Linked DNA regions of Homo sapiens: regions 1 and 3 are each reported to be linked to region 2. The links are microRNA targets in miRTarBase. Many come from high-throughput screens and were not tested one by one. Region 2 holds a microRNA gene; each other region holds the end of a gene's coding sequence.

Evidence for each region. Region 2 holds the annotated microRNA hsa-miR-2277-3p (UGACAGCGCCCUGCCUGGCUC, at 2,538-2,558, opposite strand). A microRNA usually pairs through its seed, bases 2 to 8, with sites in the 3' UTR of a target mRNA and lowers its output. Matches are read on the target gene's strand: a 7mer-m8 pairs with bases 2 to 8, a 7mer-A1 pairs with bases 2 to 7 and ends in A, and an 8mer does both.
Region 1: the mRNA of TLL2 is a reported target of hsa-miR-2277-3p. Seed matches in the 3' UTR shown: 7mer-A1 at 1,568-1,574.
Region 3: miRTarBase lists CERS1 as a target of hsa-miR-2277-3p. Seed matches in the 3' UTR shown: 7mer-m8 at 2,032-2,038.

Annotation. Positions count from the first base shown.
Region 1 is chr10:96,364,854-96,368,853 of GRCh38, forward strand. TLL2 (tolloid like 2) reads right to left here. Exons shown (of 21, transcript NM_012465.4): 21 at 1-3,369. The coding sequence ends at 3,235. Among named protein-coding and RNA genes, the nearest start is that of OPALIN, 7.9 kb to the left of the region's middle.
Region 2 is chr5:93,618,173-93,622,307 of GRCh38, forward strand. MIR2277 (microRNA 2277) reads right to left here and starts at 2,616; the gene lies at 2,524-2,616. It overlaps ARB2A (ARB2 cotranscriptional regulator A), which reads right to left. Exons shown (of 11, transcript NM_032042.6): 11 at 1-2,957. The coding sequence ends at 2,815. It overlaps LOC124901028 (a long non-coding RNA gene), which reads left to right and starts at 3,510. Exons shown (of 3, transcript XR_007058874.1): 1 at 3,510-3,771. RefSeq lists an enhancer at 1-770 and a silencer at 3,125-3,174.
Region 3 is chr19:18,866,834-18,870,833 of GRCh38, reverse strand. It overlaps CERS1 (ceramide synthase 1), which reads left to right. Exons shown (of 8, transcript NM_021267.5): 7 at 215-851; 8 at 1,444-2,289. The coding sequence ends at 257. UPF1 (UPF1 RNA helicase and ATPase) reads right to left here. Exons shown (of 24, transcript NM_002911.4): 24 at 2,604-4,000. GDF1 (growth differentiation factor 1) reads left to right here. Exons shown (of 8, transcript NM_001492.6): 7 at 215-851; 8 at 1,444-2,289. The coding sequence starts at 527. The coding sequence ends at 2,237. Among named protein-coding and RNA genes, the nearest start is that of CERS1, 27 kb to the left of the region's middle.

The DNA of each region.
Region 1 (4,000 bases), not on the chromosome of region 2:
AGGGAACATTTGTTCACAAATGGAACGCTAACAATACCAATCTGAAAGCTATCAAAGGGACCCAATCAATAGAAAATCTCAATGTGAATTTGCTAGTTAGCAGGATTTTACAAATTATTTAAATCAGCTGAGCAATTCATGAGTGATATGAAACTTTACAGCAGGGGTGTCCCATCTTTTGGCTTCCCTGGGCCACATTGGAAGAAGAATTATCTTGGGCCACACATAAAATACACTAACGATAGCTGACGAGAAAAAAAAAAATCACAGAAAGAATCTTACAATGTTTTTTAAAAAGTTTACGAATTTGTGTCGGGCCATATTCAAAGCCGTCCTGGGCCAAGGGTTGGACAAGCTTGCTTTAGAGAGAAATTGTAAAGTAGAAATAAAAAGGAAACTTCACCTTACAGGTAAATACCTCTAAATATTTACCTTAGAGGAAAATAGAGGGAATAGTGGATCAATGAACAGCCTCTCTTTCTCTGTTTGAAGAAATTCCACTGGCTAAAGTTAATTCCAGATTTTTTCCTGCCCTGCAATCCAGGCTTAGCTTTTGCTAGACCGGGTTACACCAGAACGGAGCCAGGCTAAAAACCCAGACCCCAAATCCTTCATTAGCCTGTTGTCCTAAGACAATTCTCTGAACTAAAACTATTCTTGCAACTCACTGTCATCCCCAAAGCTTGGTACCCAATTAAAGCACAAAGCAGGCTGCAGTGATATCTTCTACCTCTGCTGTTTGCTTCTGGGGATGCTTGCAGGCAGGTCACTGATAATTGGAAGCACCAAGGCAGAGGCCTGGGACTTTCTGCTGAATGGACTCTCTCTAGTGAAGCCAGCCTCTAGTTTCTTTGCAAGAACCTGTGTCATGCCTAAGTCCCCACAAGTGTGGGCTTCCAGAGGAGCGGCCCAGCTAGCCCCAGCTGAATCAGAGCTTCTCTTTTCTGTGGATACGTCACACAGAAGGCCTAAATAAAGGTTTTTCATAAGAGTCCCATTGTTGCAAATTGGCCATATGGTGACAATTGTTGAAGCTGTGTGTTTTTGAAAATGTTCATACTAAAGAGATAAAAAGAAGTATCATTGTTTCACCGTCCTGCTGAGCAGCACCAACTCTGTTTCTGACTCCCTCCCACTTTTCTATGAAATTTGTTAATCTTGCTTAGACTTCTAAAGGTTAAAACTGCAGAATTTTTATTTCCTTGGAGAAAGAACCATAACACCCATCTTAGGTTTCCCAGTTCCAGTTTCAACTCTCATAGACAAGATGAGACCAAATAAAACCTCAGAAAATACAAAAATCAGATAAATGGAATCTACCCTAACAGGCAGGTGGGATTGGAGCCATGAGGTCAGCTGCTCCATTTGCTGTATCAAAGCGCACGCTGGGCAGGGTCTGCCATATGCACAATATGAGCGTGTAGGCTGAGCCTCAGTCCAGGGCCGAGAAAGGCCAAAACAGAGCTTGGTGAAAGGAGAGGCAGGAAATGGAGAGCCAGTCCTGCAGGGCCCACAGTAAAGCGAGGACCAGGGGTTGGCATTTTCCACACTGCATTGATTAAGGCTTTGACAGCTGATCTTTTACATACATACATATATACAGACATATATTATTAATAATACTTTAATTTTTTTCTGTTTTAAGGAAAAAATATTCCCATGCATTTCTCTGACCTTTCTTTGTATCATTCTAGTTTTTGCTCCCAGCAATCACTTTAATGAGACACAGTCCTCTGGTGCCACATTCTGATCTGTAAAAAATATAACCTTTCACCTTTTACATATACTTTGTTTAAAATGATGCTGATTCATCCCAAAGGAATTCCGGTGCATGGGAGCTATCTTGGCTCTAACCAAAAACACTCATGTGCCGCCCTGCGTCCAACAACAACCAAACAGGACTTACAGTTATGTAAACATTATTTAAAAATTATTCCAACATAAATACTCTTTTAAAGCTAACATACCACAGCTTTTAGCTCATAATGCCCATAGATGCCTTAATGAAATGCCATTCAAAACTACCTCACTGTTTAAATTATACCTTGAGGTGCTAAAATTATGTAAACATCATCCTCTACACTTCTCTAGAACAAGTGCCAAGTGTTATGAATTCTGTTTGCAAGTTGGTGATTGAATACTAGTTAATCAGAGCAAAGTTACCAACGCACTCTTTAACCTGATTGGCTACAGGAAGCTAGTCACTGATTGACTTGTTCCACAAGGCGATGATTCTTACATAACTTATAATTAACCAGTCTTCAACAGTGTTCACCCCATAAGGGACCTGAATTGGTCCCTCATAAGAGGTCTTTGCACATTTTGCAAATGCAGTTTGAATTGGATGTCAAGGAGTCCAGGTGTGCCACGGCAAGTGCCTCCAAAGCTAAAAGAAGAAATGTTCTTTGAAGCCCATGGAATTCCAAGCACAGGTGGAGTCTTCTCAAAGTCAATGAATGAAAAAAATATCAGGACGAGCCACAATATTGTCTTCTCAGCAGACAGGACTCTCGCCAGCAAATGTTCTGCTGTATTCATAATGGATGCCTTAGCCCCCACTGCAATTAGGGAGGGGGGGAAACCAAAGGGACAAGGAGAGTGAATGACTCTGAGAAATGGCTTTGTGGTCTCCTAACTTCATGACAATGATTCTTATACTCGAAACTCCCTCTGTGCTCACTGCTCACTGTGATGCCTTTTTTTAGTCCTGACATCCATCCATATTTTCAGGTTTCTTGGTTGACATGTCCCTGGCAGAGAGAAAGAAAATGATTCCAGCCAAAGCTGTGGGCCACACATTAGTCTCGGCCAAGTTTTCATCCCTTATGCCCAACATGGACAGAAGACAGCCTGGCACCTTTGCAAGCAAGTCCAGATTAGAGGAACGGCCAACCCCAAGGCTGACCTTTTGCCACATAGGAGCAAGGGACAAGGAGAATGGTATGAAGAAGCATAGCCGGAATGGTCAGTGACTTCAATCCTAATCTTTAACACTTTAACAGTTCATGAATGATAACATTGCAGACAGAAGCAAAAGAACATTTTTCTCTCCACCTTGTTGGCCAAACTTACAAGACTTTCATTCAAATATATACCTCTAAGGCTGGATTCTGAGTTTTTGTTTGAGAAAAATACTGTACACTGTTTTAGGGCAGATTTTCAAGGTGCTATTGTTGTTAAAAACAAAACAAAACAAAAAAAATTCTCAGTTTCTGTCTTTCAAGAACATCAGCACTATTTCTTCATGTGCAGGGCATCCTGGAACTTGGTGCTGGTGTATCGGGCATGAAAGCCTTTCTTGTTGATGGTGTCATCTGTGCGGAATCGAATCATCAGGGAATCACCTGCAGAGTAGATTTCTTCTAATGGCTGAGGAAAGGAGAAAGGGAAACGAGAAGGACTTTAGCTGTGATTGGAGTTGAAAATGAGGAGGATGGGACAGGATCTTATGCAAGGACACAGGATGTGTCTCTGGTACCAGAGACTCTGAAGGGCATCCAAACAAGCTCCTTTTCAAAAGAAAACATTGCAAATTCTGCTCCAGGGAGCTTTGCAGGCCCTGCTCTTCCAAAGATGATCCTAGGTGCATAGCTCATATAGAATCTATTATTTATTAAGTATGCAGGTGGGTCAGGTGCTGCACTAGGCAATTCCAGATCTTATGTAAACTTTACAGCAACCTTATAAGGCAGGTACTATCCCCATTTTTCACTTCAGGAAACTGAGACTCAAGTTCTCGCAGGTAGGCGGGACCCAAGCTTAGGTCCTTCTGACAGTAAAGGATGCACCATGAATCACCGAGCTCCAGGGTCACCATTATGATGTGTCTCCCAGGAGACCTGAAACAAAGACCATGGTTCAGGCCTCTGTCTCATCCAAGGACAAAAAAATGGGATGGAGCCACTATATTGGTCAGAAAGGTTTTGCCAGGTGGTCTGTGAATGGGAGCCACGTTCCAAGGCTGTTGCCTGCGAGGTTCTAGTGGAGCCAAAGTGGGCTT
Region 2 (4,135 bases):
TGCAATCCAGGTCAAAGCACGAGGCAGAAACTCGAGAAAAGAACAGTTATTAAAGGTACATGGTCTTCTTTTCAAATATCCATGAAAACATTTAACGACGGGATGGCTAGTACCTATAGAAAGCTCCAAAGCAATAATCTGGCCTTTAAGTTTCGACGGGACTATTTTGAATCTTAGATTTATCAGTCACTCCTTTCCCATTCTACTTGTTCTAAGAATTAAGTATATAATTAAAATAAAAAGGCCACATCCTGACTTTAAATCTCCACTCTCCTAAAAACCTGTTTGAGGAAACAAAAATGGGGAAGAAGATCAGAACAAAAATATTGTTAACACTGGCCGTCCTCATGCAGGTGGGCTACTACCAACGCTGGTTGTTACTCCAGGAAAATCGAGGTGAACATTATTACATTTATATCAACAAACCCATAATCAACAGGTTAAAAAATCCTACATTACAAAGAATCTGATCACTTATCAGTTGGTGGTCTGGAATAGTTTGCCTAGCTCCCTCTGGGCTGCTACAGCTCAGATTCACAAGTAGAAATTACATTTACACAACTTAAGTTTGCAAATAGCTCTCCATAAATAGTTAAACCAGGCCTAACCATCCAGTAGTTTTAAAGTATTAGAGGCAATTAAATAGTGATTTATTCTAGCTATAAGTAAAGGTTTAAAAAGAGGAGAGATGATTTCAGAGAAGGAATAGCAGTGATTTGGTTTATAAACAGCATATTTATTGTGCTCTAATTCAGGTGCAGAAGCTTCGCCAATTTAGCATTGCACAAGTGTTGGTTTTTTATAAATGCTATAAAATTGTTTCCTGTCAACATTTTCTTATACTGAAAACACAACACAATTTATAATACCTTGAAAAATATATTCAATTCACATCAATTCTTGAATCTCTCACTGGAAGGAATGTTTGTCCCTCAACTAAGATTCCGGAACACTGCTGAAGATACCATTATTTTACACAGTTCACCACTACTTCTAAAATAGTAATGATTGGATAAAAAGGGTCAATATCACAGACAAATGTGCTTGATGTTGTTGGGGTTTACTCATTTTAAGCCATCTGGTAGCTGAATAAAATGCCATTTTGATTTTTCCTCCTATATAGTTGATTTTGCTTAAGTAACACGAAAATATATGCATACCTGAGCACTGAAAAAACATCTTTAATTTGTCATCATTAAGACTATAGAACCAATGAATGTACTTGTATGTCAAACACAGCAATGAGATATTAACAGCTTTAAAACTTGTTGAAATCGGTTCATAATATAAAAACATTTAAGCACGAAGTGGTTGATTTTAAGTTACTTTTCTGAGGCATTAGACAGTTCGAAGTCATTTTGGGTACATTTTATCATGTCCTCAAATAAGGCAGGCATATTAATTGTTGCACACACTTTAAAAAAGGATGAAAACTATTAAATTTATGTTCTCATCTATTAGAAACAATCTTTACTAGGTAATTAAACTTTTCAAGTAATTAAAATATAATGTGAAATTTTAAGATTTTAATCTAAAAGTCAGCAAAACCTTAACATCTCCTGTATTTCACAGTGTTGGCCACATCTTAGCTGGATTAAAATAATTGTTCAAACTGTAGGGCTAAACCCTACAGAGGAAGCGGAGTGCTAAAAATTATACCATTGGACTGAGAGAAGAAATTCTTTCACACCAAGTCCTTCTCTTCTTGTTAAAGCAGAAAACTAAAAGGATAATTTTAGCCCCACTTAGCCTTTCAGAAGAAAAAGGCTGCAGAGCACAAAGGTTTCGTTTCCTGATGACAATAAAAAAATTCTCTCCCTAGAAGGGCCTAACTCCAGGAAAGCTCAGAATAGATCATTCTGGAAAGGATTAACAACAACCTTTCTCCACAGAGAGATTTAAAAAGCAAAACTTAAGTGTGTTATATCTAAATTACAATGCCACACAGTACACATTATGTGTTTAAAAAGTAAAGTCAATCCCAGTGATAACAGTTGGAAATTCCATTGAAAATGGGACCTTCACACCTACACTTAAAAGAGCTGCCCATCATTGTTTTGGTTTTAACAGTCTCTTCTGAAATCAGAGACTTGTGTAAACTCTCACAATTAGCTGGCAAAAGGATTTTCAGCAGTAATGCGGATTCAGTACTTTATAGATTTTTATGCAGAGTTGTTTTTTTTTCTGGTCCCGAAATGAAAACAGGGAGAGAACAATTTGCATTCCCCAAACTACATGGTACATCATGGCATTCAGGTTCTGAATTTGAAATCGGCTTTGGAGTGTGTGTGGAACTTCCTTAAAAAAAAAAAAAAAGAGGTGGGTAATAAGATGCCCTCAGGGAAAAACCTAGTGAAAATGGAAATCTGAAGTCTGGAATAGAAGTTTGCTCCAGTTGAGAGCGGGGAAAGATGGACATGATTAAGGAGGGGGAAGCAGCAGCGGCTCCGCTACGGCGGGCGCTAGGACCGCGCCGACGCCGCCGGACCCGCAGCGCCCGCGCGGTCTCCTTCAGGGCAATTAGAGCTTCGCCGGCCGAGCCAGGCAGGGCGCTGTCAGCCTTAATGTGAGCGCTGACTGGCAGCGCTCAGCCCGCGCTCAGCCCGCAGGAAGCACGACCAGTGAACCCATATTGCTTTGACAGTTGCACTCATCTAGAAATAATGCAAAACGCTATTTAGATGTATATATCACGACCCTGGGCTCTGGGAAGAAAACAATCTAATGAGGGGCTGGGAGTCCGCTCGACACAAGCAGTGAGGAGGCGTGCGGGTGGGTGCGCCAGGGCGGCCTCCCCCGTCGCGCTCGCTCCTCTTACAGCTCTTCGTGCTTGATGCGGTGGGAGCGGCGCGTCACAGCCGGCTTCAGGGAGCTGGTCTTGGCCTCTGAGGCTTCGGTAAAGAATTTGAAAATAGACGGAAAGCTCTTCCAGGAAGTTAGCTCGTGACGGTCGGTGCCTGCAAAGAACAACACATTCGGTTACCAGGTGGCCACGCGGGGCCAGGCGCGGTGAGGGCGGCGAGGGCCAGGCCGAGCCCCGGCTCCCGACCACCCGGTCCCGCCCCTCCCCGCCCCTCCCGCCTGCGCCCCGCCTCAGCCGCCCGCGCCCCGCCCCTCAGCCAGGACCCCCGCCCCCTCGCGGGCGCGGGCCAGCCGACTCCCAGGGCACAACTAGGGCTGCGGGGTCACTTGCCCCCTGGCTCAGAGGAACTCAGACTTCGCTATCCGCGGCGTCTAGGCGTCTCCGGCCTCAGTCCCCATCCCTCTCCCAACGCGGGGACGCGGCCCGGATCTGTCCCGGGGTCGTCCGAGGCGCGGCTGGCCGCCCGAGGCCTCCGCCTCTCCGGGCCAATGGAAGCGCTGGGCGGGAAGGGCCACTCCCTCTCCCTCCGGGAAACCACCCACTCCCGAGACTCGGCGCGCGCGGGGATTGGTTTCCCCTGCGTGCGGGATCGCACAGCGCCTGTTTCCTTGCTTCCCAAGGGGGTGGTGTGGAGGGGAAGGGGGAATGATTTTTCTTGCGTCTCCCGGAAGCTGTGCTGTTAGACACAATTACCTCAGCTAGGTCACTGAGACCAAATCATACGGGACGCTTAATGAAGGACCGCATTCAAAAGGGATTACGCCTTGAAGTGTCCTGGCGGGCGACATTTTTACAGATTTTAAGGGGCAAATTTAGAACAGCTAAAAAAAAGGTTTCAAAGCCGTGACTACTAAAAGAGCATCTAGGCCTCCCATTTTATCAGGAGGAATTCAACTTAGAAAATGCAGGTTAGTTGTCAATTTATGGGGTTACTTTATTTTACTACGGCTTCTCTCTGTGGTTTCGATGTAATACTAATGTACAGCATGTTTTCAAATCAAATCGACCTTCAGTTTAACACAGGCAGCGGATAACACGGATGCAAGCATAAGAACAGATGAGGAAATACATTTAGCTATTTTTGACTCCCTGTGATGGCTTATGTAGCATTTTACCAGTGGCTTCATAAATGAGCACTTTTTAAAATTAAAAATTAAAATAATTACAGACTTCCACAGAAATAATGAGTGAATAGCTTTTAAACAGTTGAAATCTCTTCCTAGATCACTCAATTATGCAGAGAGATACCGCTTGGAAGTCTCCGGATTCAGG
Region 3 (4,000 bases), not on the chromosome of region 2:
GGGGACATACGTGCCTACGGGGCAGGTTGAAGGAGGGGCAGGGTGAAGGCAAGGAGGGGCAGGGTGAAGGCGAGGAGGAAGCCACAAGGCGAGGCCCGGGCCTGGCCGGGTAAAAGGAGCCAGGGGGTGTGAAACGGCCAGAGAAGAAGCGGGAAAGAGGGCCAGGCGGCCGCGTGGGGCTCCCAGGCTAACCTGCGCCGGTTCTGACCCCCAGGAAGCCACTGAGGAACGGCCTGGTGAAGGACAAGCGCTTCTGAACCCCTCGGCCCCGCCCCCGTGGACCCGGCCCCACCCCGAATACCCCGGCCACGCTCCCCGTCCTTGGCCGCCCCTCCACCCCCTCCAACTCTGCTCCTCTAGGGCCGCCGCCACCTCCCCTGGGACCCCGCCCCCTCATCCTGCCTCCAGTTCCCGGCCACGCCCCCCAGGACCCCTGCCCCTCCGGGGACACCGGCCCCGCCCTCAGCCCACTGGTCCCGGGCCGCCGCGGACCCTGCGCACTCTCTGGTCATCGCCTGGGAGGAAGATGCCACCGCCGCAGCAAGGTCCCTGCGGCCACCACCTCCTCCTCCTCCTGGCCCTGCTGCTGCCCTCGCTGCCCCTGACCCGCGCCCCCGTGCCCCCAGGCCCAGCCGCCGCCCTGCTCCAGGCTCTAGGACTGCGCGATGAGCCCCAGGGTGCCCCCAGGCTCCGGCCGGTTCCCCCGGTCATGTGGCGCCTGTTTCGACGCCGGGACCCCCAGGAGACCAGGTCTGGCTCGCGGCGGACGTCCCCAGGGGTCACCCTGCAACCGTGCCACGTGGAGGAGCTGGGGGTCGCCGGAAACATCGTGCGCCACATCCCGGACCGCGGTGAGTGGGGCTTTCGCTGGGGACACTGGTCCTGGAGGCCAGACCTCGCAGGGCGAGCCTCGAGAGTGGCCCGGGGATGCCCGAGCAGCTCCGAGGGTCCCCACCCGCCCTGTCCAGGCTACTAGCAACTTCGGCCACCGCACCTCACCCTTTCCTCGTCATCTGCTGCACGCCGGGGACACATGTCAGGGGGTTCCCAAGACCAGTCCTTCTGCTTGATGCTGAAGCCCTGTCCCCACCCCATGCCCACCCCCACCTCTTGACACTAATGCCTTCCTGCAGATGCCATCCCCACACCCTAGCATGGCTTCCCCAGGGGCCCAGGTTCTGGCTCATGTCTCCCACTTCGGCCACCCCTCCTCCTATGCCCCCCGCCGAGGGCAGCCCACCCCCCCCGCCGCACCCCGCAGGGCGCCTTCCTTGGAACTCATGCCCTGCCCCCACTCCATCAGCCCACCCCGCCGCTTCACACCCTTCCCACAGACGGTGCGCCCCGAGCCCCAGCGTTCACCTTCCTCCCTGTCCCTAACCGAGACCCCATGGGCAGGCCGGGGACGCAGCGCGAGCCGAGTTCCTGTTCCTACCTCCCCAGGTGCGCCCACCCGGGCCTCGGAGCCTGCCTCGGCCGCGGGGCATTGCCCTGAGTGGACAGTCGTCTTCGACCTGTCGGCTGTGGAACCCGCTGAGCGCCCGAGCCGGGCCCGCCTGGAGCTGCGTTTCGCGGCGGCGGCGGCGGCAGCCCCGGAGGGCGGCTGGGAGCTGAGCGTGGCGCAAGCGGGCCAGGGCGCGGGCGCGGACCCCGGGCCGGTGCTGCTCCGCCAGTTGGTGCCCGCCCTGGGGCCGCCAGTGCGCGCGGAGCTGCTGGGCGCCGCTTGGGCTCGCAACGCCTCATGGCCGCGCAGCCTCCGCCTGGCGCTGGCGCTACGCCCCCGGGCCCCTGCCGCCTGCGCGCGCCTGGCCGAGGCCTCGCTGCTGCTGGTGACCCTCGACCCGCGCCTGTGCCACCCCCTGGCCCGGCCGCGGCGCGACGCCGAACCCGTGTTGGGCGGCGGCCCCGGGGGCGCTTGTCGCGCGCGGCGGCTGTACGTGAGCTTCCGCGAGGTGGGCTGGCACCGCTGGGTCATCGCGCCGCGCGGCTTCCTGGCCAACTACTGCCAGGGTCAGTGCGCGCTGCCCGTCGCGCTGTCGGGGTCCGGGGGGCCGCCGGCGCTCAACCACGCTGTGCTGCGCGCGCTCATGCACGCGGCCGCCCCGGGAGCCGCCGACCTGCCCTGCTGCGTGCCCGCGCGCCTGTCGCCCATCTCCGTGCTCTTCTTTGACAACAGCGACAACGTGGTGCTGCGGCAGTATGAGGACATGGTGGTGGACGAGTGCGGCTGCCGCTAACCCGGGGCGGGCAGGGACGCGGGCCCAACAATAAATGCCGCGTGGTCTGCTCCGCTGGTCTCCTTGGACTCCTTGCCTGGGTGGTGGGGAGGGCGCCCCTCAGTCTTGGTGATCGGATAGGCCTTTCCACCTCCAGGCCACCTGCCAGAGGCCTAACGCGCCACTCCGGGGAGCCGCCCGGACAGGCCCAGGTGCTGCCTACGGGAAGGGCCCAGGGGCAGGGGTCGCCCTTCAGTCCTGCAAGGCAGACCTGTCCCTTCTGGGCTTTGCCTGTCTCCCTCTGGCCTCCTTCACACCCCAACCCGTCACTCAGCCAAGGCAAAACCCCAGCACCCTCCACCCCCTGCAGTTTATCCAACCTTGGTGTGAAGTCAAAACTGTTTATTAATATTTGGTGACAAAAGAACTTAAATTGACCGAAAATCAAAAGTTACATTGCCTTGGTACAGTGCGCCTGGGTTTGTCAAGGCTGCTGCTACAAAGCTGGAGAACACAGCACAGGGCGAAGCAGAGGCAAAGCGGCCCAGCCCAACAGCCGGGATGGGGCAGGGAGCGTCCCTCAGGCCGCCGCGGGGTCACCGCGGAAACCTACCCGGTGCATGCCTCTACGCGGCCTACCGGAAGAAGGGGAAACCGAAAGCCCTAGAGCAATGGGAATAAATAAGAGTCCCTGCCAGAAGGAAGGTGGCCTGTGCGTCCCCGTCTGTCCCATGTAGAAGCCGGAATCTGGAGGTGTTCGGATCAGGGCCAGTGACAGCCCCAGGCCCGGGGCAGGGGAAGCTGGAGGCCTGGCCGCCAGGCAGAATGACACCCCAAGCCAGGCGTTCGAGGGGCTGGGGCAGCTCTCCTAAAATGACCCTCTGCCAATGACACCACACCCTCAGTCCCTTCACACAGAACGCGGTAATTTCTGTAACTTGTTTCCTTACCCCCCAGAAGCAGCAATCACCCCATCAGCAAAGTTGCCGGCAGGCAGAGCTCCCAATTTGGGCTTTCGGTGTGCAGCGCTCCGTGTCTAACCAGCACAGGGACTGTCGGTACCTCCTGGGGACGGGGACAGGGACAGGCCCTCTTGTCCTTCCACCAAATCTTCCAAAGGCCCCCGGGAAAAAGCCGTCAATCCGGGAACAGCCACCTTCTCGCCTCCTGGCCACAGGGCCAGTCCTGGCCAAGGCCCCTCGCAATGGGGCCAAAAGCACCTTCCTCACCGGTGCGGGGCCCTGCGCCGAGTCTAGGCGGGAAGCAGCTTGGCTTCTGAGTCCAGCGGAGAACGAGCAGCTTCCAGGCTCGGCGGGCGGCTACCCCAGCAGCCTGATGCCCCGCAGAAAGAAGCCACTGGAAGCTAAAACCAACAACAAAACTCCTCCGGCCGCGGCACAGGTGTTGCTCCTCTTCTCCAGTAGCGCTGGCTTGTTTAAACTGTTTCTGGAAGCTTCTCAAATCTCCCAGGTCCACCGCTAAGATTTTACAGACAAACTTAGGAAAGTATTCTTCAGTACTCCTTTAAAAGAATCTTGAAAAAAACAAAGAGAAAAACCCAAAACACCCTTATTTTCTTTAAATGAAGGCCCTCGGAGAACACAGGCAGCGCGACCTCGGCGCGTCCGGTAGGCGTGGACAGACGCGCCCTCCCGGGGCTCTGCCCCGCACGCTGCTGTCTTTGCAAGGAGCCTGCTCGGGCACAGAAATGCGAAGTTTTTTTTCCTGCTAAGACGTAGTCCCCTTTCAATCAAAGAGAAAAAGAAATAAAAGAACAGAGGAAA